Regions from separate parts of the Homo sapiens genome. Here all the other regions are linked to region 2. Evidence: fine-mapped expression QTL. A gene starts in region 2. Each other region holds a variant in brackets. All regions are shown on one strand. Distances are between the middles of the regions.

Evidence for each region.
Region 1: its variant is fine-mapped to the expression of ACAT1 in anterior cingulate cortex (GTEx, PIP 0.96).
Region 3: its variant is fine-mapped to the expression of ACAT1 in cerebellum (GTEx, PIP above 0.99). The same link has a PIP of 0.9 or more in lung, tibial artery and whole blood.

Annotation. Positions count from the first base shown.
Region 1 is chr11:108,649,090-108,657,274 of GRCh38, reverse strand. No RefSeq gene overlaps it. Among named protein-coding and RNA genes, the nearest start is that of DDX10, 12 kb to the left of the region's middle. The variant C/T (reference allele first, on the strand shown) is at 4,949.
Region 2 is chr11:108,116,605-108,124,789 of GRCh38, reverse strand. It overlaps ACAT1 (acetyl-CoA acetyltransferase 1), which reads right to left and starts at 3,223. Exons shown (of 12, transcript NM_000019.4): 1 at 3,112-3,223. The coding sequence starts at 3,183. RefSeq lists enhancers at 547-606, 667-786 and silencers at 3,012-3,421, 3,023-3,561.
Region 3 is chr11:108,143,135-108,151,319 of GRCh38, reverse strand. ACAT1 (acetyl-CoA acetyltransferase 1) reads right to left here. Exons shown (of 12, transcript NM_000019.4): 10 at 7,273-7,337; 11 at 4,961-5,118; 12 at 3,717-4,050. The coding sequence ends at 3,930. Among named protein-coding and RNA genes, the nearest start is that of ACAT1, 26 kb to the right of the region's middle. RefSeq lists a silencer at 383-551. The variant TTTTTAA/A (reference allele first, on the strand shown) is at 3,757.

The DNA.
Region 1 (8,185 bases), 530 kb before region 2:
TTGTCTTGTTTAGTGTGTTGTTGCCAAGCTGTCTGATGCCAATCTAATTTTCTTTCTTTCATAATGACCTTAATTGTTTTGAATGAAAAATCAGATTATTTTTTCTCCCTTTTTTAGTAAATCAAATCATTTTACTAAATTATGTTTTAGAGTTAATTGTTTATGGGTCAATTCTCCCAGGCACACAGTGGACCTCTTCAGTAATAGTTTTTTGCTTTTGTTTTTTTGTTTTTGAGATTGAGTCTTGCTCTGTCGCCCAGGCTGGAGTGAAGTGGTGCGATCTCAGCTCACTGCAACCTCCGCTTCCCAGGTTCAAGCAATTCTCCCGTCTCAGCCTCCCAAGTAGCTGGGACTACAGGCACCCACCACCAGGCCCAGCTAATTTTTCTATTTTTAGTAGAGACAGATTTCACCATGTTGGCCAAGCTGGCCTGGATCTACTGACCTCACATGATCTGCCCACCTCAGCCTCCCAAAGTGTTGGGATTACAGGTGTGAGCCACCGCACCCAGCCAGTTCTTTGTTTAAGTTTGTCTGCTCTCTGCATTGTAACTGCCTTTCTACATTGCCAATAAAGTTAAATACTGTTTAATTTTAAGAGAGTCCACAAGATCAGAATAACTTGGCCTAAAGATGCTAAAAGGTGAACCCATCCATGTCCTCTTGTTACGTAAAAATGGCAAATAACTATTTGTAAATCAATTCAACTGTATATTTGACTTTTTTTAAGTTGGAAAAGAAATTAATACAACAAGATATATGTTTATTCAAATAGTGAAATTACCTTTGTTTCCTTATACCTTATTAATATAATCAGTCTGAAGTCATTGTTAGGATACAACACCTCTATACAATTTTTGAAGTTGCAGCTTTGGTTGGTTCCATCTCCTTTTACTCATATCCTCTAAAACTTGGCGGGGCCAGCATGCAGCCACCTTGATTCCAGAATGCATCCTGTCAAACCTTTAAACAACAAAAATATATTTACCTAATTGGCTAGTACACATAAATTAAAAGGCCACGAGGTTTAAGCTTGCCACAACTGTTGTGTTGCTAACTACCCAGGAGTCATGAATCAATTAGTTTGTCTATGCATGTGTTTGTTCATTCATTTATGTATAACTTTTTTCCTTTATTTATCTAATTGTCTTGTACTAGACATTCTTAAGCCTCAAGAATACAAAAATGAAGAAAAAAACTGTCCTTGCCTCAAGAAATTTATAATCAAGCATGATGGCCTCCAAAGTTAGTTGCACGAGAATCACATAGAAAGCTTTTAAAAAATAGTGCTTCCTGAGCTTTAGCCAAAAATATTCCTATTCTATAAGTATGAAACAGAAACCAGGCAATTCTGTTTCATAGGGACCTCTGGTCTAGTAAATTACAATTAATCATAATAATTGAAGCTGATTATAATCAGTTCAAGTTGAATACCACCAAAATTAAACCATAATAAAACTATGAAAATTAACATACAAAGGGAAAATAGTAATAAATAAAGTTTCCATATGCTGTTGATTTTTTTGTTGTTGTTGTTGTTGTTTGAGATAGGGCCTCGCCCAGGCTGGAGTGCAGTGAAACAATCAGGGCTCACTGCAGCCTTGAACTCCTGGGCTCAAGCCATCCTCCTGCCTCAGTCCCCTGAGTAGCTGGGACCACAGGCACATGCCACCACGCCTGGCTACTTTTTTATATTTTTAGTTGAGACAGAGTTTTGCCATGTTGCCCAGGCTGATCTCGAACTCCTGGACTCAGGCGATCTGCCTGCCTCAGCCTCCCAAAGTTCTGGGATTACAGGTGTGAGCCACTGCACCCTGCCTGCCCTTGATTCATATTTGAACCATAGATATTAATAAGACGCTTAACAAAACCATCTCAACTCATCAATGTTATCAATAAAAATTACTGTGGCTATCACACATAAGGATTCTCATACTGTGGTTCACTAGTAAAAATACTTGAAGACTCATGCCCTAATCACTTGTCTGAGATAAACTTAATTTCTGCCACTATTTTCACTTAGTGAGAAATTGGAACTTCCAGATAGTTATTTTTGGTCTATCATGGGCCAGCAGGTGGCAGGGTAGGATTAAGTGCTAGTTTTCCCTTGGGAGTGGACTGAATTTGGCCTGGGTTTTTATAGTCACTCAGCAATTTGGTGTACTGGTAAGTTTGTCTGTCTTATTAAAACATTGAGTTTCTAGGACATGCTTTATTTACAATCAGTACTCCCAAAATTCTATTTTTAATTCATTCTTCCAACGCTTCTTTTTAATTAACAGGAAGTAATTGCTAATATTTATTGAGCACCTAGTAAGTGCTATTTCTAACTTCATTACATACATTCTTTCTAAACCTCACACAACTCATTTTCCGGATGAGAAAACTGAAGGCAAGAAAGATTAAATGATACGCCCAGGGTCATATGTGACTTAATACTTGATATCATTGGTATTCTCTCCCAGTTTGTGGCACCACAAAACATAATTTTGATTTATTTCATCATGGAAAGACTTCCAACTCTCCTGTTCTAAAAAGAATTAGTATCTTCATAAATAGCAGTTTGTCATGTACTGGGGCCAACCTTACTGAGTTCAGTTATTCAAGTTAACCTTGAATCTAATTGTTCACTACCTATGTACAATTTCCATATATTTCTATGTTTTACATAGTGTTAAAGCAAACTAAATATGGCCTGAGAAGGACTCTGTATTTCTATATTTGAGTCCTTATGGACAAACTGTAACCTAGTTTAATAGGCAGACAAGATCGAAAATCTAATTTAGGAGTATGCACCTGTAACAATAGCTGAGTCTTGGCCAATCCCAGTGGCCATACTTCAACCACTCATAGACTCCTAAGTGTTCAAACTGTGTTCAAATAAGGCAAACGCCAACCTATAACCAATTCAGCTGTTTCTGTGCCTCACTTCTGATTTCTGTATGTCACTTCCCTTTTTTTAATCTATAAATTTTTTCTGACCACGAGGCATCCCTGGAGTCTCTCTGAATCTGCTGTGATTCTAGGGTCTGCCCAACTTGCGTATATATACCACATTTTCTTTATCTGTTCATCTACTGATGGACACTTAAGTTGATTCCATATCTTGGTTATTTTGAATAGTGTTGCAAATAAACACAGAAGTGTAGATATCTCTTTGATATACTGATTTCCTTTCTTTTAGATACACACACAGCAGTGAGATTGCTGGATCATATGGTAGCTCCATTTTTGTTTTTTGAGGAACCTCCTGCTGTTCTCCACAGTGCCTGTACTACATTCCCACCAATAGTGTTTAAGTGTTCCCCTTTCTCCACATCTTTGCCAGCATTCATTATTGCCTGTCTTTTGGATAAAAGCCATCTTAACTGGGTGAGGTGATATCACATTGTGGTTTTAAATTTGCATTTCTCTGATGATCGATGACATTGAGCATTTTTCATACACCCATATACCTGTTGGCCATTCATATGTCTTCTTTAGAGAAATGTCTGTTCAGATCTTTTGCCCATTTTCCAATCAGATTATTTGATTATTTACTGTCGAGTTATTTGAGCTCCTTAGATATTCTGATTATTAATCTCTTGTCAAATGGGTAATTTGCAAATATTTTTTCAATTCCATGGGTTGTCTCTTCATTTTGTTGATTGTTTTCTTTGCTGTACAGAAGCTTTTTAGCTTGATGTGATCTCATCTGTCCATTTTTGCTTTGGTTGCCTGTGGTCTTTGAGGTATTTTGGTCTTTGAGGTCTTACTCAAAAAATCTTTGCCCAGACCAATATCCTGAAGTGTTTACCCAATATTTTCTTCTAGTAGCTTCATAGTTTCAGATCTTACATTTAAGTTTTGAATCCACTTTGATTTGCTTTTGTATATGGCAAGAGATCAGGGTCTAGTTTCATTTTTCTGCTTGTGGATATCCAGTTTTCCCAGAACCATTTATTAAAGAGACTGTCCCTTCTCCGATGCATGTTCTTGGTATCTTTGTCAGAAATGAGTTCACTGTAAATGCACGAATTTATTTCAGGGTTCTCTATTCTGTCCCATTGATCTATGTGTCTGTTTTGATGCCAGTACTATGCTGTTTTGGTTACTATAGCTTTGTAGTATAATCTGAAGTCAGGTAATGTGATGTCTCCAGTTCTGTTCATTTTGCTCAGGATTGCTTTGACCATTCTGAGTCTTTTATGGTTCCATATGAGTTTTAGGATTATTTTTTCTATTTCTGTGAAGAATGTCATTAATATTTTCATAGGGATTGCATTGAATGTCTAGATTTCTTTGGGTAGTATGGATATTTTAACAATATTAATTCTTCCGATCCATGAACATGGATATCTTTTCATTTTTTTGAGTCCTCTGTATTTCATCATTTTGTTTTCTTTTGTTTTTGTGGGGTTTTTTTGTTTTGTTTTGAGACAGAGTCTCGCTCTGTTACCCAGGCTGGAGTGCAATGGCATGATCTCAGCTCACTGCAACCTCCACCTCCCAGGTGCAAGCAATTCTCCTGCCTCAGACTCCCAAGTAGCTGGGAATACATGCACCCGCCACCACTAATTTTTTGTATTTTTAGTAGAGATGGGGCTTCACCGTGTTGACCAGGCTGGTCTCGAACTCCTGACCTTAGGTGATCCACCTGCCTCAGCCTTCCAAAGTGCTGGGATTACAAGCATGAGCCACCACACCGGGCCTCATCAATGTTTTATAGTTTCATTGTAGACAGCTTTCATTTCCTTGGTTAAGTTATTTCCTAGGTATTGTATATTCTTTGTAGGTGTTGTAAATGGGATTACTTTCTTGGTTTCTTTTTCATATTGTTCACTGTTGACATACAGAAATACTACTGATTTTTCTATGTTGATCTTTTATCCTGCAACCTTACTGAATTAATCAGTTCTAATAGTTTTTTTGGTAGAGTCTTTAGATTTTTCTAAATATAAGATAATAT[C/T]ACTTGCAAACAAGTATAATTTGGCTTCTTCCTTTCCAATTTCGATGCCCTTTATTCCTTTCAGTCTAATTGCTCCAGCTAGGACTTCCAGTGCTAGGCTGAATAACAGTGGTCAACATGGGCATCCTTGTTTTGTTCCAGATCTTAGAGGAAAGTCTTGCTGTTTTTTCCCCATTCAGTATGATACTAACTATGGTTATGTCATACATGGCTTTTATCATGTTGAGATATGTTCCTTCTAGGCCTGGTTTTTTGAGTTTTTATCACAAAAGAATGTTGAATTTTATTGAATGCTTTTTCAGCACCAATTGAAATGACCGTATGTTTTTGTCCTTCATTCTATTGCTATAATGTATCAAGTTTATGGAGTTGCCTAGATTGACCCATTTTTGCATTCCTACAATGATTCCCACTTGATTATGATTAATTATATTTTTATTTTTATTTTTTTTGAGACAGAGTCTCACTCTGTCACCCAGGCTGGAGTGCAGTGGCATGATCTCAGCATACTGCAGCTTCAACTTGTCAGGCTCAAGCTATCCTCACACCTCAGCCTCCCGAGTAGCTGGAACTACAAGTGCATACCATCACACCTGGCTAATTTTTGTAGTTTTAGTAGAGAATGGGTTTCATCAAGTTGCCCAGGCTAGTCTTGAAATCCTGGGCTTGAGCAGTATGCCCACCTTGGCCCCCCAGAGTGCTGGGATTACAGGCGTGACCCACTGCGCCCAGCCCGAATTATCTTTTTAATGTGTTGTTGAATTTGGTTTGCCAGTTTCTTTGTTGAGGGCTTTTGCATCTATGTTTATCAAAGATGTTGGCCTGTAGTTTTATTTAATTTTTTTTTTAGAGTTGGGGTCTCACTCTGTTACAAGCTAGAGTGCAGTAATGCAATCATAGCTCACGGCATCCTTGAACTCCTGGGCTCAAGTGATCGATCTGATTTTTATTGTTTATTTTCTTCCACTAATGTTGGGTTTGGTTTGCTCTTACTCTTCTAGTTTTTTAAGATGCATCATTGGTTGTTTATTTGAAGTTTTTCTACTTTTCTGATATAGAAATGTATTGCTATAAACTTCCCTCTTAGTACTACAATACTTTTGCATATCCCATAGGTTTTGGTATATTATGTTTCTGTTTTTATTTGTTTCAAGAATTTTTTAAACTTCTTTCTTAATTTCTTCATTGATTCAATGGTCACTCAGGAGCATATTGTTTAATTCCCATGTGTTTGGATAGTTTCCAAAGTTCTTCTTGTCATTAATTCCTAGTTCTATTCCATTGTGATCAGAAAAGATACTCGATATGATTTCAATGTTTTTGAATTTTTATATTATTTAATGTTTTTAAATTTTGTGGCCTAATACATGTTCTATACCTGAGAATGTTCCACGTGTTGAAGAGAATGTGTATTCTTTAGCTGTTGGACGAAATGTCCTGTAAATGTTATCAGCTCCATTTGGTCTGTACTGCAGACTAAGTTCAATGTTTCTTTGTGGATTTTCTGTCTAAAAGACCTGTCCAATGCTGAAAGTGTGATGTGGAGGCCTCCAACTACTATTGTATTGGGTTCTGTCTCTCTCTTTAGCTCTAATAATATTTGCATTATATATCTAGGTACTTCAGTGTCGGATGTAGGTATATTTACAACTGTTATAGTCTCTTGCAGAATCGACCCCTTTATCATAATAGAATGAACTTCTTTGTCACTTTTTACAGTTTTTATCTTAAAATCCATTTTATCTGATATAAGCATAGCTACTCCTGCCTCCTGCTCCTTTTTTTTTTTTTTTAATTGGAAACAGGGTCTCACTCTGTTACCCAGGCTGGAGTGCAATGGTGTGATCATAGCTCACTGTAATCTCAAACTCCTGAACTCAAGTGATCATCTTACCTCAGCCTCCCAAGTAGGTAGGACTACAGGTGCATGCCACCACACTCAGCTAATTTTTAAATTTTTTGTAGAGATGAGGGTCTTGCTATGTTGCCCAACTGGTCTTGAACTCCTGGCCTCCAGCAATTCTCCCACCTCAGCTCCCAAAGTGCTAGGATTACAGGTGTGAGTCACCATGCCTGGCTCTTGCTCTTTTTTTGTTTTCATTTGCATTGAATATCTTTTTCCATTTCTTTATTTTCAGCCTATGTGTGTCTTTATAGGTGACATATGTTTCTTGTAGGCAACATAAACTTAGGTCTTTTTTTTTTTAATCCATTTAGCTACTATGTCTTTCGACTGGAGAATTTGGTCCAATTACATTAAATGTTATTACTCACAGATAAGATTTACTACTGCCATTTTCTTATTTGTTTGCTGGTTATTTTGTTGGTCCTCTCTTTCTTTCTTCCTTCCTTCCCATTTTCCTTTGTGTAAAAGTGATTTTCTCTGTAGTATATTTTAATTTCTTTTGGAAAAATTTTTGGGTATCTGTTGTAGATTTTTGATCTGTGGTTACCATAAAGCTTGCAAATAACATCTTATAATCAATTATTTTAAACTGATGACAACTCTAATTACAAAAAAAAAATCTAAAAATCTCTACCTTTTAACTCCATCCTTTTCATCCTTTTTGACTTTTTGTTTTTTCTATTTGTATATTTTAATACTATGTATCTATCGAAAAGTTGTTGTAGTCATTATTTTTGATAGGTCTTTTAGTCTTCCTACTCACGATATGAGTGGTTTACACACCACAATTACAGTGTTAGAGCACTCTGTATCTGTCTGTGTACTACTACTAGTGAGTTTTACACCTTTAGCTGGTTTCTTATTATTCATTAATGTCCTTTTCTTTCAGATTAAGAAACTCTCTTTAGCATTTCTTGTAGGACAGGTCTGGTGTTGACCAAATTCCCCAGCTTTTGTTTGTCTGGAAAAGTCTTTATTTCTTCTTCATGTTTGAAGGACATTTTTGCTGGATATAATAGTATAGAATGGAAATATTTTTCCTTCAGTATTTTGAATATGTCATTTCACTTTCTCCTGGCCTAAAAACTTTCCACTGAGAAATATGCTGTCAGACATATTGGAGTTCCTATATAAGTTATTTGTTCTTTTTCTCTTGCTGCTTTTTAGAATCCTTTTTTTATCCTTTACCTTTGAGAGTTTACTAAGTGCCTTGAGATAGTCTTATTTGGATTGAATCTTCTTTGTGTTCTATGACCTTCTTGTACCTGGATATTGATATTTCTCTAGGTTTAAAAAGTTTTCTGTTATTATTTGTTTGAATAAACTTTCTA
Region 2 (8,185 bases):
ACTAAGTATAGAAAGAAGGGTCCTGTGGCAAAAGCAGAGTGAGCACGGCAGCAGCTGAGGCCACAGAACTAAGTAGGGCCCAGCAGATCATAAGGGTCTAGATTCTGGCCTATGGGCAATGACAAGCCACTGAAAGCTTTTATGTTATAAAAAGACCACTCTGGCTGCGGGGGAACTGAGTGTACTAGGGTAAGATTAGAAAAAGGGAAGGGGGCCAGGTGTGGTGGCTCACACCTGTAATCACTTTAGGAGGCTGTGGTGGGCAGATCATCAGAGGTGGATCACCTGGTGAGCTGGTCAGGAGTTCGAGCCCATCCTGACCAACATGGTGAAAGCCCGTCCCTACTAAAAATACAAAAAGTAGCGGGTGTGGTGGCACATGCCTGTAATCCCAGCTACTCAGGAGGCTGAGGCAGGAGAACTGCTTGAACCCGGGAGGCCAAGGTTGCAGTAAGCCAAGATCGTGCCACTGCACTCCAGCCTGGGCAACAAGAGCGAAACTTGATCTCAAAAAATAAAAAAGAAAGAAAGAAATTAGCAACAGGAAGGAAGTAGCATACAGGCTGTTAGGTCAAAGGGAAGAAGCAAGGTTACCAAAGCCAAGGGGTCAGGATCCCAGCAGAAGCGGGAACCACAAGAGAGACAGACACTGCCAGATACAGACAGACAGACAAATTATTCTGGCTTCTCCCTTCCTCCTATCTTCCAATCTTCCACTGGTGCCTTCCAGTGGCTACACCCAGCCAGAAGCCAGCTGATATTGGTCAGCCTACAGTAATGCAGACAGACTAGGGGAGGGAAGATAAATGAATCTGGGAGCAAATAAGCCCAAGACTGGCACAATACAGGAATTTTTTTTTAAGTCTGAGTATTAAAAGAAGCTGAATAAAACTGGATCAAAACACAAAACAGTTTCAAGAAGGGAGTGGTCAATAGTGTCAAATATAGGATAAAGGTCAAGAAGAAAAAACTTGGGCTGAGCACAATGGCTCACACCTGTAATCCCAGCACTTTGGCAGGCCAGGAGTTCAAGACCAGCCTGGCCAACAGAACCAGACCCCGTGTCTACAAAAACTAAAATTAAAATAGATTTAAAAAAATAATTAAAAAACAAAGAAAAAGGAAATCACTGTATTTTTCAGCTTCAGTGGCAAAGAAATTTAACTGCAGAGAGTTAAGGAGAAATAGATGCAGAATACATGGGAGGTAATGAGTAAAGACCACTCCTTTGACCAGAGAGAGAAAAGTGATTAGAGCTAGAAAGGCAATGTGCTCCAATAAAGTCCATAAAGATTTGTTGACCATAAAAGAGACCTGGTAAGCAAAGGGAAAAGAGCCAATGTAATGAGAGGTCAAATTCCATTCTACAAAATAGCACAGAAAACTGGAAATCCTGTTTATAGTTCAGTAAATGACCATTTAATTCAAGTGTCCAATACAACTGCTTCCTAGAGTTCAGTAATATGAATGTCACATATCATACATTACAGCATGTACAGGCTTATTTTTTTCATGAGGAGTATTTGTGTTTCATTTTAAGATCTTTTTTTTTAAGACGGAGTCTCACTCTGTTGCCCAGGCTGGAGTGCAGTGGCATGATCTCAGCTCACTGCAACCTTCCCCTCCTCCCGGGTTCAAGCGATTCTCCTGCCTCAGCCTCCCAAGTAGCTGGGATTACAGGCGCCTGCCACCACACCCAGCTAATTTTTGTGTGTGTGTGTATTTTTAATAGAGGTGGGGCTTCACCACGTTGGCCAGGCTGGTCTTGAACTCTTGACCTCAAATGATCTACCCACCCCGGCCTCCCAAAGTGCTGGGATTACTGGCATAAGCCACCTCAACCAACCTGATTGTAAGATCTTAATTAAACCATAAATTAAGAAGGTTCTGAACTTTTTTTTTTTACATCTCTAGAGTACCTAGTTCACCTATGTCACCTAGTCAATACTGACTGAAACCCAAGATAACCTAATTACTTTCTTGTGATTTCTTCACTCATCCCATGAGACTAACAAATAGGCTAAAAACTCATCTTCCCTGGAAACCTACGCCTTGTGACTTTTCTATTATCTCAGTCACCCAGGATCAATTTTAGACTCTTTCTTTTCCCTTGGCTTCGCACCCTCACTCCCTAATTGTCAAGTCCTAGACTGGTTCTTTTACAATCTCTTGCAAAGCTCCTACCGCCAGCACCCTTGTGCAAGTAATGTTATTCTACGCCCAGACGTAAGAACTAGAGTGACCTACCATTGCAACAAAAACAAACATATCAACAATCCCTACTTAACTAGGGTCAAGTCCATACTCACAACATAACTGGATCTCCAAGCTTATTGCCCCCATCGACCTAGAAAACTCAAGCTTCACCAACCACACCCTGAAGGTCTCTACCTATTCCTGAGGCTTTGCCTGACAATCTGTGGTGCGTACTCCCTTGCTTACGCATGTGGAGAATAAATTCTTTGAGACTCTGCCCCTGCTGTGTTCCCTAAACACAACGGTCAGAAGAGCGACAGCCCTTGGAACGCCCTCAGTATGTGAGCTTTGCTCATATGTCAAGTATAATTTATTGTATTATCTGAGTAGTCATTTGTTTTCCCTGATAAATTTCAGGCTGCTCCAAAAAACATCTGTTATGATCACATGGTGCCCTCTCCCCTTGTATGCCCAATGATTATCTATTGTATTAAAAAAGAAAAGGAACCTCTCCTGACAATAACGCACACAAATATGTTTTAAAGAAAATCTCGGGAGCAGCTGCACAGGCCTGCAAAGAGACTCTCCCCGATCCCACCGCTCAGGCCGGGCCAGCGCCAATCCTGGCGGTCCTGCCCGCCCAGACACGTGCCCTTGTTTGACACACCAGTAACGCTCATTAAGATGATTACGCCGAGACCTTGGAAGTAGAAACGCGCTGTAAAAATAGGCGAGTCCCTGGGTGTTATCGGAGCACTTAGGCGGTTTTTGGACCAGAACCCGTCGCGTGACTGTCCTGGGGCCTAAGCCGCGCGCCCGGGCCGCGGGAGCCGCAACGGCCGCGGGCTGGAAGCTTCCGAGGCGGGGACTCCTCGCATCCCGGGTCTGAGTGCTGTGGGGACGAACCCCGCTCACCTGCACCAGCCTCCGGAGCAGGGGGCTGCGGCTGCGGGCGCCGCTGCGCAGAAGTGCCGCCAGCACAGCCATGGTCGCAGAGGGCTGAGTATCGGCTCCACAGGCGTAGACTAGCGGCCTCCTCCCCAACCCCGCACCCCTAGCGGCCCGGCGCGGGCACCGCCCATCCCGCTTCCTCCAATAGTCGCCTCTCAGTCGGCGGCGATTGGCCGGCAGCCAAGGGCGGGGCGGAGCCTGGCGCTGGGACACCGCAGCCTGGGCCAGGAAAGGTTGACGAGTGAAGGACGTGGATGGAGACACTGGCGCTGGGGTCAACGAGCACCTGACACGCTGCTGGCTCCCGTGTCCACCAAGTCTAACCTGCCGGGGCCGGTGGTTTATGTGTAATCCGAGATTTTTCGATTTACTGAGCATGTTTCCCTTAGGCCTACCCAGCACAAACTCATGAAAATATTTTAGGATTTTTTTTTTTTTTTTTGAGACAAGGTCTCACTCTGTCACCCAAGCTGGAGTGCAGTGACGTGACCACAGCTCACTGTAATCTCGACCATCAGGGCTCAAGCGATCCTCCCTCCCCAGCCATCCCAGTAGCTGAGACTACAGGCGAAAGCCTCCACAACCAGATAATTTTTGTATTTTTTGTGGAGACGGGGTTTCACCATGTTGGCCAGACTGGTCTTGAACTCCTGGACTCAAGTGAGCCTCCCTCCTCGGCCTCCCAAAGTGCTGGGATTACAGGCGCAGGCGACCACGCCCAGCAAATTGTTGTATTTTTTTTTTTTTGTAGAGACTAGGTCTCCCTATGTTGCCTAGGCTGGTTGCTGACTCCTGGGCTCAAGCAGACGGCCAGACTCAGCCTCTCAAAGTGCTGGGATTACAGGCGTGAGCCATCACACCCAGCCGTGAAAATATTTTGAAGCAATCAAATTCCAGGCTCAGTCCAGATACAAATATGGGTAAAAAGGCCTCAGGTGATTCCAGTCCCCAACCTTCAACCACTCCAGCTGAGACCCCAGACATCATGGAGCAGAGACAAGCCATACCCACCATGCTGTCTGAATTCATGGTCCACAGAAACGAGAGAAAACAAATGGTTGTTATTTTAGGCCATTATGTTTTGGAGTATTTTTTTTTTTTAAGATAGGGTCTCGCTCTTGTCACCCAGTCTGGAGTACAGTGGTGCAATCATATCTCACTGCAGCCTCAAACTCCTGGTCTCAGGGGATCCTCCTGTCTCTGCCTCCCAAGTAGCTAGGGGATCCTCCTGTCTCTGCTTCCCAAGTAGCTACGTAGCTAGGACTACAGGCATGCTCCACCATGCTAATTTTTTTAATTTTTATTTTATATAGAGAAGGGGTCTTGCTATGTTGCCCAGGCTGGTCTCAAACTCCTGGCCTTAAGAGATCTTCTGGCCTTGGCCTCCCAAAGCACAGATATTATAGGCATAAGCCACCTAAATAGGTCTGTTTGGGGGTAATTTTTTTTTTTGAGACAGTCTCGCACTTGTCACCCAGGCGCGATCTTGACTCACTGCAACCTCTGCCTCCTGAGTTCGCCTCAGCCTCACGAGTAGCTGGGATTACAGGCGCACGCTGCCAAGCCTGGCTAATCTTTTGTATTTTAGTAGAGACGGGTTTTCACCATGTTGCCCAGAGGCTGGTCTCAAACTCCTGAGCTCACGCAATCCGCCCCCACTAGGCCTCCCAAAGTACTGGGATTACAGGCGTGAGCCACTGCACGCGGCCAGGGTAATTTTTTAATATAGCACCCTGTCTTTAATTTCCCCATCACTCCAGGTTTGTCCCTTAAAGTCCCCTGTGATTCCTGCACCGAAGAACCTCTCTATTCAACAGCTCACCAAGGCCTACCTCCTTCCTTGGAATGTCACACTCACACCTTTCCCTTCTACCAGAGGCCAAAGACAAATATTTTTCATACTGGGCTGCTTCGAGAATTATTGAAAGGAAGTCATTACATTGTATGTCAGTGTTTAAACTTTGTGTGTGTGTGTGTGTGAGAGAGAGAGAGAGAGAGAGAAACAGATATTTCTAACTGAAAAAGTTGAATTGTTAAAGAAATGACTCAGAAAACTAAAGGTCTGGCCTCATAGAGATTACCAGTTGTGAGAGGCCAAAGCTGATGACTAGGGTATCACACAGTAAAAGATGACTGGTTAGGCTGGGCGTGGTCGCTCACGCCTGTAATCACAGCACTTTGGGAGGCCCAGGTGAGTGGATCATTTGAAGTCAGGAGTTAAAAGCAGCCTGGCCAACATAGCAAAACCCCATCTCTACTAAAAATACAAAAATTAGCTGGGCATGGTAGTGGGCACCTGTGATCCCAGCTACTCAGGAGGCTGAGGCAGGAGAATTGCTTAAACCTGGGAGGTGGAGGTTGCAGTGAACTGAGATCACACCACTGCACTCCAGCCTGGGCAACAGAATGAGACTGTGTCTCAAAAAAAGAAGAAAAAAAAAAAGACTGGTTACATAGCTATGTACATAGTTCTTAATATGAACCAGTTCTTTTACAGTTTAATTTTAATTCTCCCAAAAATCCACTGAATTAGGGAGTAGCATTATCCACATTTTCCAGAAGTTTGTCCAAGGGCACAAAGCTAGTAGTTAGTGACACAGTTGCAATTGGAATCTAGGCAGTCTGGTTGCTAGGTCTAGGCTTCTAGGCACTCACTACACTAGTTGTGTCTTAGGAGACACCTGCCCTAGGAGAAACCTAACTAGGAACATAGAAGTCAGCTGTAATTGGACAATTCTGCCATCAGAGGCACTACCAGGAAAAAGTGCCACTATGTTCATCAGGACAGCTTCTAGAGAAGTTCAGAGACATTTAGGAGCATTGAGGGGAGAAGAATAGTACATTTATTTCTGGAGCTACAGCAGGCAAGCTGCTCTTTAAAACTAAACTTCAAAAAAATAAGAGTAGCTTTATCACCAATATGAGCACCAGGCAAAAATGTAGCTAATAATTTCATTTAAGAATCTAGGACTTGGCCGGGCGCGGTGGCTCACGCCTGTAATCCCAGCACTTTAGGAGGCCAAGGCAGGCGGATCACAAGGTCAGGAGATCGAGACCATCCTAACACGGTGAAACCCTGTCTCTACTAAAAATACAAAAAATTAGCTGGGCATGGAGGGGGCCACCTGTAGTCCCAGCTACCTGGGAGGCTGAGGTAGGACAGTGGCGTGAACCCAGGAAGCGGAGCTTGCAGTGAGCCAAGATCGTGTCACTGCACTACAGCCTGGGTGACAGAGCGAGACTCCGTCTCAAAAAAAAAAAAGAAAGTGACTAGATTAACATTTCTTCTGTGAAATAGAAATGGAGTGTTGGAATGAAAATTAAATACAATTAAGAGAGAATTATTTTTGTTTGTATTTTAAAATTTATTATTATTAGTACTAGTATTTTGGTAGACACAGGTTCTCACTATGTTGCCCAGGCTGGTCTCCAACTCCTGGGCCCAAGCAATCCTCCCTCAGTCTCCCAAAGTGCTGGGATTACAGGTGTGAGCCACCACACCTGGCCAAAGAAAAAATTTAAAAACATTTTTTGCATATCTGAATTTGTGGCTTTGGATTATCATTCCTGTCATAGCAGGCAATAGTGTCTGGACAGATGTATTAATGAAGAGCTACTCAAAAAGTGGTTTATCTGGGATTTATTACATTTGTCAAGGAGATCTAGTCAATACCTCCATCTAGTGGCAAACTTGTAAGTGGAGACTTAGGTCTTGCAAAGTATTATTAAAATATTGATAAAATAAAGCCCTCTGAAATGTCCATGAGACCCAGAGTGGCTTTCTAGAAGTAGAAGTTAGTTTTAGGAATATTAGAGCAATATTTTCACAGCAGGAAACTAGTGGAAAATTAAAAACATTTAAGAAAAACTTGTGGGTATTATATTTATAATACAAAGATGTTTGATATTCATTTCCAAGTAAGTTCTTCTACAACGAACAACTTCTGTCAAACTTAGACTACTGGAATAACTCGTTGTACTACGTTAAACAGTGTCCTTCCAAAAGATATGTTTGTTTAAGGGACAGGGTCTCTGGCCAGGTGTGGTGGCTCATGCCTGTAATTCTAGCACTTTGGGAGGCCAAGGAGGGCAGATCACCTGAGGTCAGGAGTTCCAGACCAGCCCGGCTAACATGGTGAAACCCTGTCTCTAGTAAAAATACAAAAAATTAGCTGGGTGTGGTGATGGGCTTCTGTAAGCCCAGCTACTCAGGAGGCTGAGGCAAGAGAATCGCTTGAACCCAGGAGGTGGAGGTTGCAGTGAGTCGAGATCGTGCCACTGTACTCCAGCCTGGGCGACAGAGCAAAACTCTGTCTCCAAAAAAAAAAAAAAAGAGAGAGACAGAGCCTTGCTCTGTCACCCAGGCTGGAGTGCAGTGGTGCGATCATAACTCACTGCAGCCTCCTAAGCTCAAGTAATCCTCCTGCCTCAGCCTTCCAAGTAGCTAAGACTACACGTGTGTCACCATGCCCACCTAATTTTTATTTTTTGTAGAGATGGGGCACTCACATTTCCACCCACTTTCTCTTCAAGGCAATCTAGGCTTAGTCTATCATGTGCCTCAAACTTCTTCCTCTGCCCATCACCCCAATCTATTAATAAAGGCACTTCCATGTTTGTGTATATTAATATGGCAGCACCCCACTTTTCAGTACCAAAATCTGTATTTGTTTCCTAAGATTGCAGCAGCAAATTACCACCAACTGGGTGGCTTAAAACAAAAGAAATGTATTTTCTTACAGTTCTGGAGGCTGGAGTCCAAGATCCAGGTGTTGGCAGGATTGGTTCTTTCTGTGGGTTCTAACGGAGAGTCTGTTCCATGCCTCTCTCCAAGATCGTGGTGGTTGTTGGAAATCCTTGGTATTCCTGGCTTTGTAGAGGCATCAGTCCAACCCCTGTCTTCTCCCCTGTGTGTGGCTTTTTCTCCACTCTTGCTATAAGGACACTGGTCATTGGATTTAGGGCCCATCCAAATCCAATTATGACCTCATCTTAATTTGATTACACCTGCAAGTTCTCTATTTCCAAATAGTCACAT
Region 3 (8,185 bases), 27 kb before region 2:
CTGTTGTCTTATAGTAACTTAAGATATGGAACTGTAACCATAACAGGTCCATTGCCCATTGTGCATGACAAGTCAGTATGTAAGACCCTGGGCTGCAGCAAAGAAAGATGTTTAATTGCAGGGCCACCGAATGAGGAGACTGGAGGAAACTTCAAATCTCTCCCCGAGGGTTTAGGAAGTGGGCCAAGGTGCAGCCTGTTTAGTGCCTAGTTATAACTATATTTCTGTCCAGGACCCAGCATGCAATTCTTGTAAGTCCCGTGAGGGCAGTCTCAGAACTTGTCCTACTAGCGTTTACCTTTATTTAGCAGATAAAGATAACATGTTACCGATATTTCACCATGTAAAGGCCAAGGGAAACCAGGAGGTAGGTGTAAAACACAAGAAAAAAAAGGAAAATACAAGGAAAAAAGGAAACTCAACATATTTTAGAATACTTCACTGAAGGTAAGTAGTGCATCCAAAGGTTGGTGATCTGGAAAACATTTGAAAAGTGCTCTGAAAATTCTGGGGAAAAAATGGAAAGGAAGAGAAAAAATAGAGAACCAGAAAGTAAATGGTATTTCTTTTCTTTGTTTAAGAGACAAGGTCTCCCTCTGTCCCCCAGTACAGTGGCAGGATCATTTCACTGTAACCTTGAAGTTCCCCTTGGCCCTCTGAAGGTTTGCTGGAAAATAAAGCTGTTTGCAAAAGGCAGATTAATTGGAGAAAAGGAATATACATTTATTTAATGTTGTATACATGGGGGCCTTCAGACAAAGACCTGACCCCGCCCCCAGTGGGGTGTAGAAACTTTTTTTTTTTTTTTTTTTTGAGACAGTCTCACTCTGTTGCCCAGGCTAGAGTCCAATGGTGTGATCTTGGCTCACTGCAACCTCTGCCTCCTGGGTTGAAGCGATTCTTCCACCTCAGCCTCCTGAGTTGCAGGGACTACAGGCATGCGCCACCACGACCGGCTAATTTTTGTATTTATAGTAGAGACAGGGTTTCACCATGTTGGCCAGACTGCTGTCGAACTTCTTACCTCAGGTGAGCTGCCCATCTGGGCCTCTCAAAAGTGCCAGGATTACAGACATGAGCCCCTGTGTCCGGCCAGGTGTAGGAACTTTATACCATCTTCAGGTTACAGAAGTAATGTGAGCTCCCAGCATGGCCAAAAACATGTTATTTTGGTAAATCAGGTTTTAGTGGCAACACAGGTTACGGGTAGGGAAAGGAGACCTGGCTAGGAAAGGTGGTCTTGTTAGAAGCTTTCTGAGAGAATGGATGTTAAATGTTTAAGACCTTTAAAGGTGTCAGACAGGCTCTCATTTAACCTTTTCTAGATTCCAGACAAGGGAAGTCCTGGCTGCATTAATGGAGATTCTCCATAGACGCAGATTTCTTTCAAAAAAGACAGCTTTGCAGCACCACTTCTGTTTGCTGGCCCTCTGATAGCCATCTCAAAATATGTCAAATAAATATAATTTGAGGTAAAACATTTTTATTTCCTTCAACCACTACCTTTCCTTCTTCCCCAGCCAGTCCTTAAGCAGTCATTTAAAAAATTAGAAACTTTCACCTAACTGAATTCTTAATTCTTCATTCCATGGGCTTGCCTAAACCTTTGTCATTTTTGGAGGAAACATCAGAGTACTTTATTTTCTAAACTTTTCTGTGTTTGAGACACACCTTTTAGTATCTTATTTTGTTTCATTAAAAACAGTTAGATGTCCTGTCACTTGTTTTCTTGGATTGAATGTAATAGAAATAAGAACTGTGGCTACCTATTTTTCTAACTAGATGTTAGAGGAATTTAATACATTTTCTCCAGAATGTCTTAGTATGATTTTCTGCTAATTAATTTTGCCAATAAAATATGCTCTTTAGGGCTGGGCGTGGTGGCTCATGCCTATAATCCCAGCACTTCGGGAGGCCGAGGCAGAAGGATCACCTGAAGTCAGGAGTTCGAGACCAGCCAGGCCTACATGGCAAAACTCTTCTCTCTACTGAAAATAAAATAGCTAGGTTTGGTGGCGCATGCCTGTATACTCAGGAGGCTGAGGCACGAGAATCGCTTGAACCCAGGGAGCGGAGGTTGCAGTGAGCCAAGATCGTGCCACTGCATTCCAGCCTGAGCTACGAAGCAAAACTCTGTCTCAAAAAAGAAAAAAAAAAAATGCTCTTTAAAATCTTCCCCCTTAGGACTTAAAAATCTGAGTTTTTCTATTATCTTTATGTTTTCTGTTATATTAAATTATTGCTTCAGAGTATCTTTTTTTTTTTTTTTAGGAAACACCATTTAAGCTGTGCATGGTAGCATGTGCCTATAGTCCTAACTACTCAGGAGGCTGAGGGAGGCAGATCACTTGAGAACCCAGGAGTTCAAGGTTACAGTGAGCTATGGTCATGCCACTGCACTCCAGCCCAGGCGACAGAGCAATACCTTATCTCTTTAAAACAAATTAAAAAACCTACTTACTTGATTCTCTGTTTCTTCTCTCTTTTCCATTTTTTCCCAGAATTGTCAGAGCACTTCTCAGATGTTTTCCAGATCAATGACCTTTGGATGCAATGTTAGTTTCTGCTTATCTTCAATGAAGTATTCTCATGTTTTGGGTTTCCTTTTCTCCTATATCTTATCCAGCTCCTGGTTCAGTTAGAAGTTTTTGTAAGTCGGGGCAGATAATTATTGAAAGGCATTTAACTAAAGCATAGTAAGTTAAGAACGTGGGCTCTGGAGCTTGACTAACTTGGAGTTGAATCCTAGCCAGCTTTTTGCCCTTGGAATTTATTTAGCTACTCTATGCCTCAATTTCCTTGTTTATAAAGGAGGGATAATAATGGTACCCACTCTTAGAAGTTTTTGTGACAATTAAATGAGTTTATACATATAAAGCACATAACAAGCCTCAAAAGTTGGTGATGATTACAGATGTTTTTGAAAATACTCTACTCTTCCTCTGAATCTGAAGAGCAATCTAATCTATTTCTCCCATATATTGTCATTTTGCTCCTTCAAAAGATCTACAATACATTATTTGCCAACAGATAATGTGTACACAATGACCTTTACTGCCCCCTCCTCTTCCTGAGGGGGAGTTTTCCCTCTTCAGAGCTGCAATTGAGGGTAGTGTGCATAGCCCCTGCCTGTAGCGTTTTAATTAATTAATTTTTTCCCAGATAAAATGCAATGCGAGATACTTCTGTTACAGTCTGTCCTGCTTAAGAACAGGCATTGTCGTGTATTGGAAGTGGTGATCTGTTCCCTTTTTTATATATCCATTCAGCATATCAGTTTCTACCTCCCTTCCCACTCTCTATGCTGCTATAGTAATTCAGAGCCCAAACTCCAGGGTTTTCTGCTTGACCTCCCCCAACCCTGAATGTTGAGGTTATAAGAAATTGCCCCCACTCTAGACCCTGAGGACATGGGCTTCTGTCTTGTTTCTAGTACTGCTGCACACACTGTGGTTTGAGTGATTATATGAAGCACTGCTAGTTTGTCCAGAATAGCCAACTCTTACTGTAAAGAGAAGTAATTTAATTTACCGTAATTTACTAAATGTAAATTACCTATAAAGAGCATTCACTTGACCTTTAACAATCCTCAAAAATATAAATGTGTTCTCACAAATGGAAACTTCTAGCTACTTATGTAAGTCACTAATATTACACATTGGTATTTCTACCATATTTCGATAAGTATAGACTCAGAATGCAAAAATGTATCAAACTTTTCAAGGTTACCAAGAAAAAAGCAGAAGAAGAAATTTA[TTTTTAA/A]TTTCAAAATGTTTTGGGATTTCATCATTTTGATTTTTAAAAGTTAACATAGAAAATAATAAAAAATGAAACAGCTTATCTGAATATAAGCTGACCCACAGTAGTCACACTGATTACAGCAGGCCTTCTGGTCACATAGGGTTGTCTCCTTAAATAGCAGAGGTTGTCTACAGCTTCTGAATTAGCATGGCAGAAGCACCTCCTCCTCCATTGCAAATACTGGCAAGACCGTATTCTCCTTGCTTCAAGGCATGAGTCAAATGACCAACAATCCTGGCTCCAGACATCCTAAAATTAAGAAAGCATTTACTTCTTTAATGAAGTACAGAATTTATGACTAACCAAAATGTTTCTATTCCAATTTAACTTCTTGAAAACCTTACTAGCCACTACTACTTGCTGAATTAACTACTACTATTCTAAAACTAAAACTTGGAGGACTTGTTTCAGGAAGGGTCACAGATCTTAGATCATTTTTTGAGATGGAGTCTCGCTCTGTCGCCAGGCTGGAGTGCAATGGCAGAATCTCAGCTCACTGCAACATCCACCTCCTGGGTTCAAGCGATTCTCCTGCCTCAGCCTCCCAAGTAGCTGGGACTACAGGCGTGCACCACCACACCCAGCTAATTTTCGTATTTTTAGTAGAGACAGGGTTTCGCCATGTTGGCCAGGATGGCCTCTATCTCTTGACCTCGTGATCTGTTCACCTCAGCCTCCCAAAGTGCTAGGATTACAGGCGTGAGCCACCGTGCCTGGCCAGGTCACAGATCTTTTAAAAGTACAGAACAGTATAATGGATAGAAGAGTAGAGTATAATGGAAGAGGGATGTGGGATAAACTACATATTGGGTGACTGACAGGTGCACTGAAATCAGCCCCCACCACTATAAATTCATCCATGTAACCAAAACCCACGGTACCCTAAAGCTAATGAAATAAATAGGAAGGAGAAAAAGGGGGTAAAAAGTCTAAATGTACACTTTTTCTTCTTCAGCATAAAACATTATTAGGTTTCAAATAACAGATGTGACAGGTCTCTGTTCAGTATTGGATACCATCTATCAGAAATGGTTTTTGCCTTATGAAAGATGGGTAGGAAGGAAAACTTAAGAGCAATGGGAATTATGAAGCAGTTTTAAGTTTAGCTAGAAACACAAAGGCAGCTCTTAACCTAGATATAGTTATTATTTTTACCTACCCAATTGGATGTCCCAGAGAAACAGCTCCTCCATTGATATTCACTTTTTGGGGATCAATCTCCAACATTTTAATGTTTGCTAGTACAACCAGACTAAAGGCTTCATTTACTTCCCACATTGCAATATCTTCTTTTTTCAATCCCACATCTTTAAGAACCTTAAATTTTTTAAAAGACAGATGATGTTCAAATAATTAGCAATCACAACTTACTGTCATCATTTCCTTGAAATACTACAGTTTGACATAAGTTATTTAAATATGGAAGTTCTTGGTTTCAGATGGAAGGATCTCTATTTTCAGATTTTTTTTTTTTCCAACAGTCTTGCTCTGTCTCCCAGGCTGGAGTGCAATGGCGCCATCTTGGCTCACTATAACCTCTGCCTCCCAGGTTCAAGCAGTTCTCCTGTCTCAGCCTCCTGAGTAGCTGGGATTACAGATGCCCACCACCATGCCCAGCTAATTTTTTGTATTTTTAGTAGAGACAGGGTTTCACCATGTTTGGCCAGGCTGGTCTCAAACTCCTGACCTCAGGTGATCTGCTCACTTCAGCCTCCCAAAGTGCTGGGATTACAGGCGTGAGCCACCGCACCCGGCCCATTTTCAGATTTTTAGTTGCTCATCTTATTCCATTATATCAAAGAATTTTGTTTGCATTATGTCTGTTTTGACATAGGGGACAGAAAATTTGATTTTCTTTCCACAGATATTTGAAAAGGTACATTTTCTATTTAGGGGCACATAATGCTTTATATATTCTTAAGCTCTGCTTTACTGATTGTGTGTTGCTTGGTTCTATATTCTTTTTTGTTGTTGTTGATTTATTTTGAGACAGGGTCTTGCTCTGTCACCCAGGCTGAAGTGGAATGGCACAGTCATGGCCCACTGCAGCCTTGACCTCCCAGGCTCAAGCGATCTGCCTCCCAAAGCGCTGGGATTACAGGCGAGCGCCACTGCACCCAGCCATTTCTATGTTCTTGACTGTTAATGAAAGAGGTATATTAGTTTCTAATATTAGTGATATTAATGCATCCCCTGCAGTTTCTGCTTTATAAATGTTACTGTAGGGTTATCTGGGCCACAGATATTTACATCTGTTGCAGTTTCATTGTAAGTCATTTATTTAAAATCTTACACTATATGATCTGTTTTGTTTTGGTAGTTCCTCAGCTATGCAGGAAGGTGTATTTGTGCCAGTGATTATCCCTATGCTAATACTTTTTAAAACATTACTAGTGAGTGCCCTAAAACATTACTAGTGAGTGCCCTTTTTCTTTACAGAAGAAATTTGATTGTTGTGAGCGATAATAAAATTAACGTGGAACTCTTCCTCCATCTTCCTCTCTTCTACTAGTGGACTAAGGGTAGCTTTCTAGCCTATACAGCTCAAACAGCTTCCACTGTTCCAACAACACAAAACAAAATATGGTACCCATATATAGCTATGTCTGTAGCTCTCAGAAGTTATTCTACCTTCAGAATCCAGAATTGTTTATTACCCTTGCTTTCCAACGTGATGTTACTCACTTTCAGAAGCTGCGTGTTCCTTTCATTTTCTGAGATCTGCTAGCTCTGAGCAGATCATCACTCCACTGGCCCCTTGTTTCTGATCTTCTCTATTCTTGTTTCCTACTGATTCTGCAGTTTTTTTTTTCATTGCGGGGGTTGGGGGCAGTGGGGAGAATCTGATTTTACTAAAATTCTGCAATTTTTTTTATCTGGGTGCTTACAGAAGTTTACTGTCAGGGTGAGGCCCTCTCAAAAGGAAATATTTACTTAAGATTTCTAAGAACCCTGAACCCCTAAAACTTTCTTTTCCTGTGACTGCTTAGCAATTTCCCACTGAGACTTGGATAGCCCTTACTGACAATTTGGAATATGTAGGTTTTCTGTCTCTAGTTTTACTATTTACTCTGAAGACCTGCTGCCAGCTGTTCCCTTTCAGAATGGAGTCCTCTCCTGGGGAGTGACTAGTTGCTTTCCATTCTAGATCTGGAACCATCAGCCAGCATTCCCTCCGCTTTGTGGTTACCACACCAGGTGTGTGAGTTCTGTATGATACTTACAAGTAATTCAGATGTGTAGTTTTACCTGTTCTACTGAAGATGTAGTTTGTGAGCTGTTCTTTATTTTTTTTTTTTTGTTTGTTATCCTTGTTGCTCTTACTCTTTTCAGGAGAAGACATGGGAAGATTTGAAACCAAGCTATCTCTCTGCTTTGGCAGATAACATTTAAAATCTTAAAAACTGCAACCTTGGTATAAGCAAACCAGAAGCTAGCATAATGGAGTATCGCCCCTCACTTTGTTCTCACCATAGATGCAGCATATACAGGAGCAATTGGAAAATCAATAGGTTCTACAGCAGCGTCAGCAAATGCTGTTTAAAAAAAGGGGGGGGGGGGTTGTTAAAATCTTTTTTTTTTTACTGTATAGAATATGCACAAGCCAAGTTTAGCCCATTAAATGCACATTTCCTAGCCCCTTTAATATATGTAAATATATGTCTTCCTTTTCTAGGATTCTACACTTTATAAAATTACTCCAGTAATCTAAGACACTGATTTTCATTGGGGGGGAGTTTGGGGGTATTTGCCTCTAGGAACATTGGCACCACCTAGAGATGTTTTTGGTTGTCAGAATAGTTCAGATGCCACTGGGTAAAGACTAAGGATTCTGCTAAACATCTACAATGCATAGAACAGTCCCTACAACAAAGAATTACTTAGTGCAAAAGTCAATAGTGCTGAGGTTAAGAAACCATGATCTAAGCTAAGAAAAAAAATGAAGTTATAAGGCTTTTTATAAAGTAACAAAATAGCATCTGTTAAGTCCTTAGGAAGAAGGCAAGACAGATTTCTGCAGCTAAAAATCGGCTTAAGGACATTGAGAACTTGCCCAAGGCCACAGAGTTAATAAATACTAAAACACCACACATGTAAATTTTGTATTTCTGGACTCCTAATCCCATATTCTTTTTTTCCTACATAGCTGCCTCTGTAGGAAAATGCATGTACTTTATTTTCTGCTATTTATCATACAGGACAGGAAGTTTTTTAAAGCTTAATTTAAAAAAAAAGAAAAAGAGACAAGATCTTGCTCTGTTGCCTAGGCTGGCTGCAGCTTTGACATCTTGGGCTCAAATGATCGTCAGCCTTAGCCTCCTACGTAACTGGGACTACAGGCATGCTACCACACCTGGCTAATTTTTTTCTTTCAGAGGTGGGG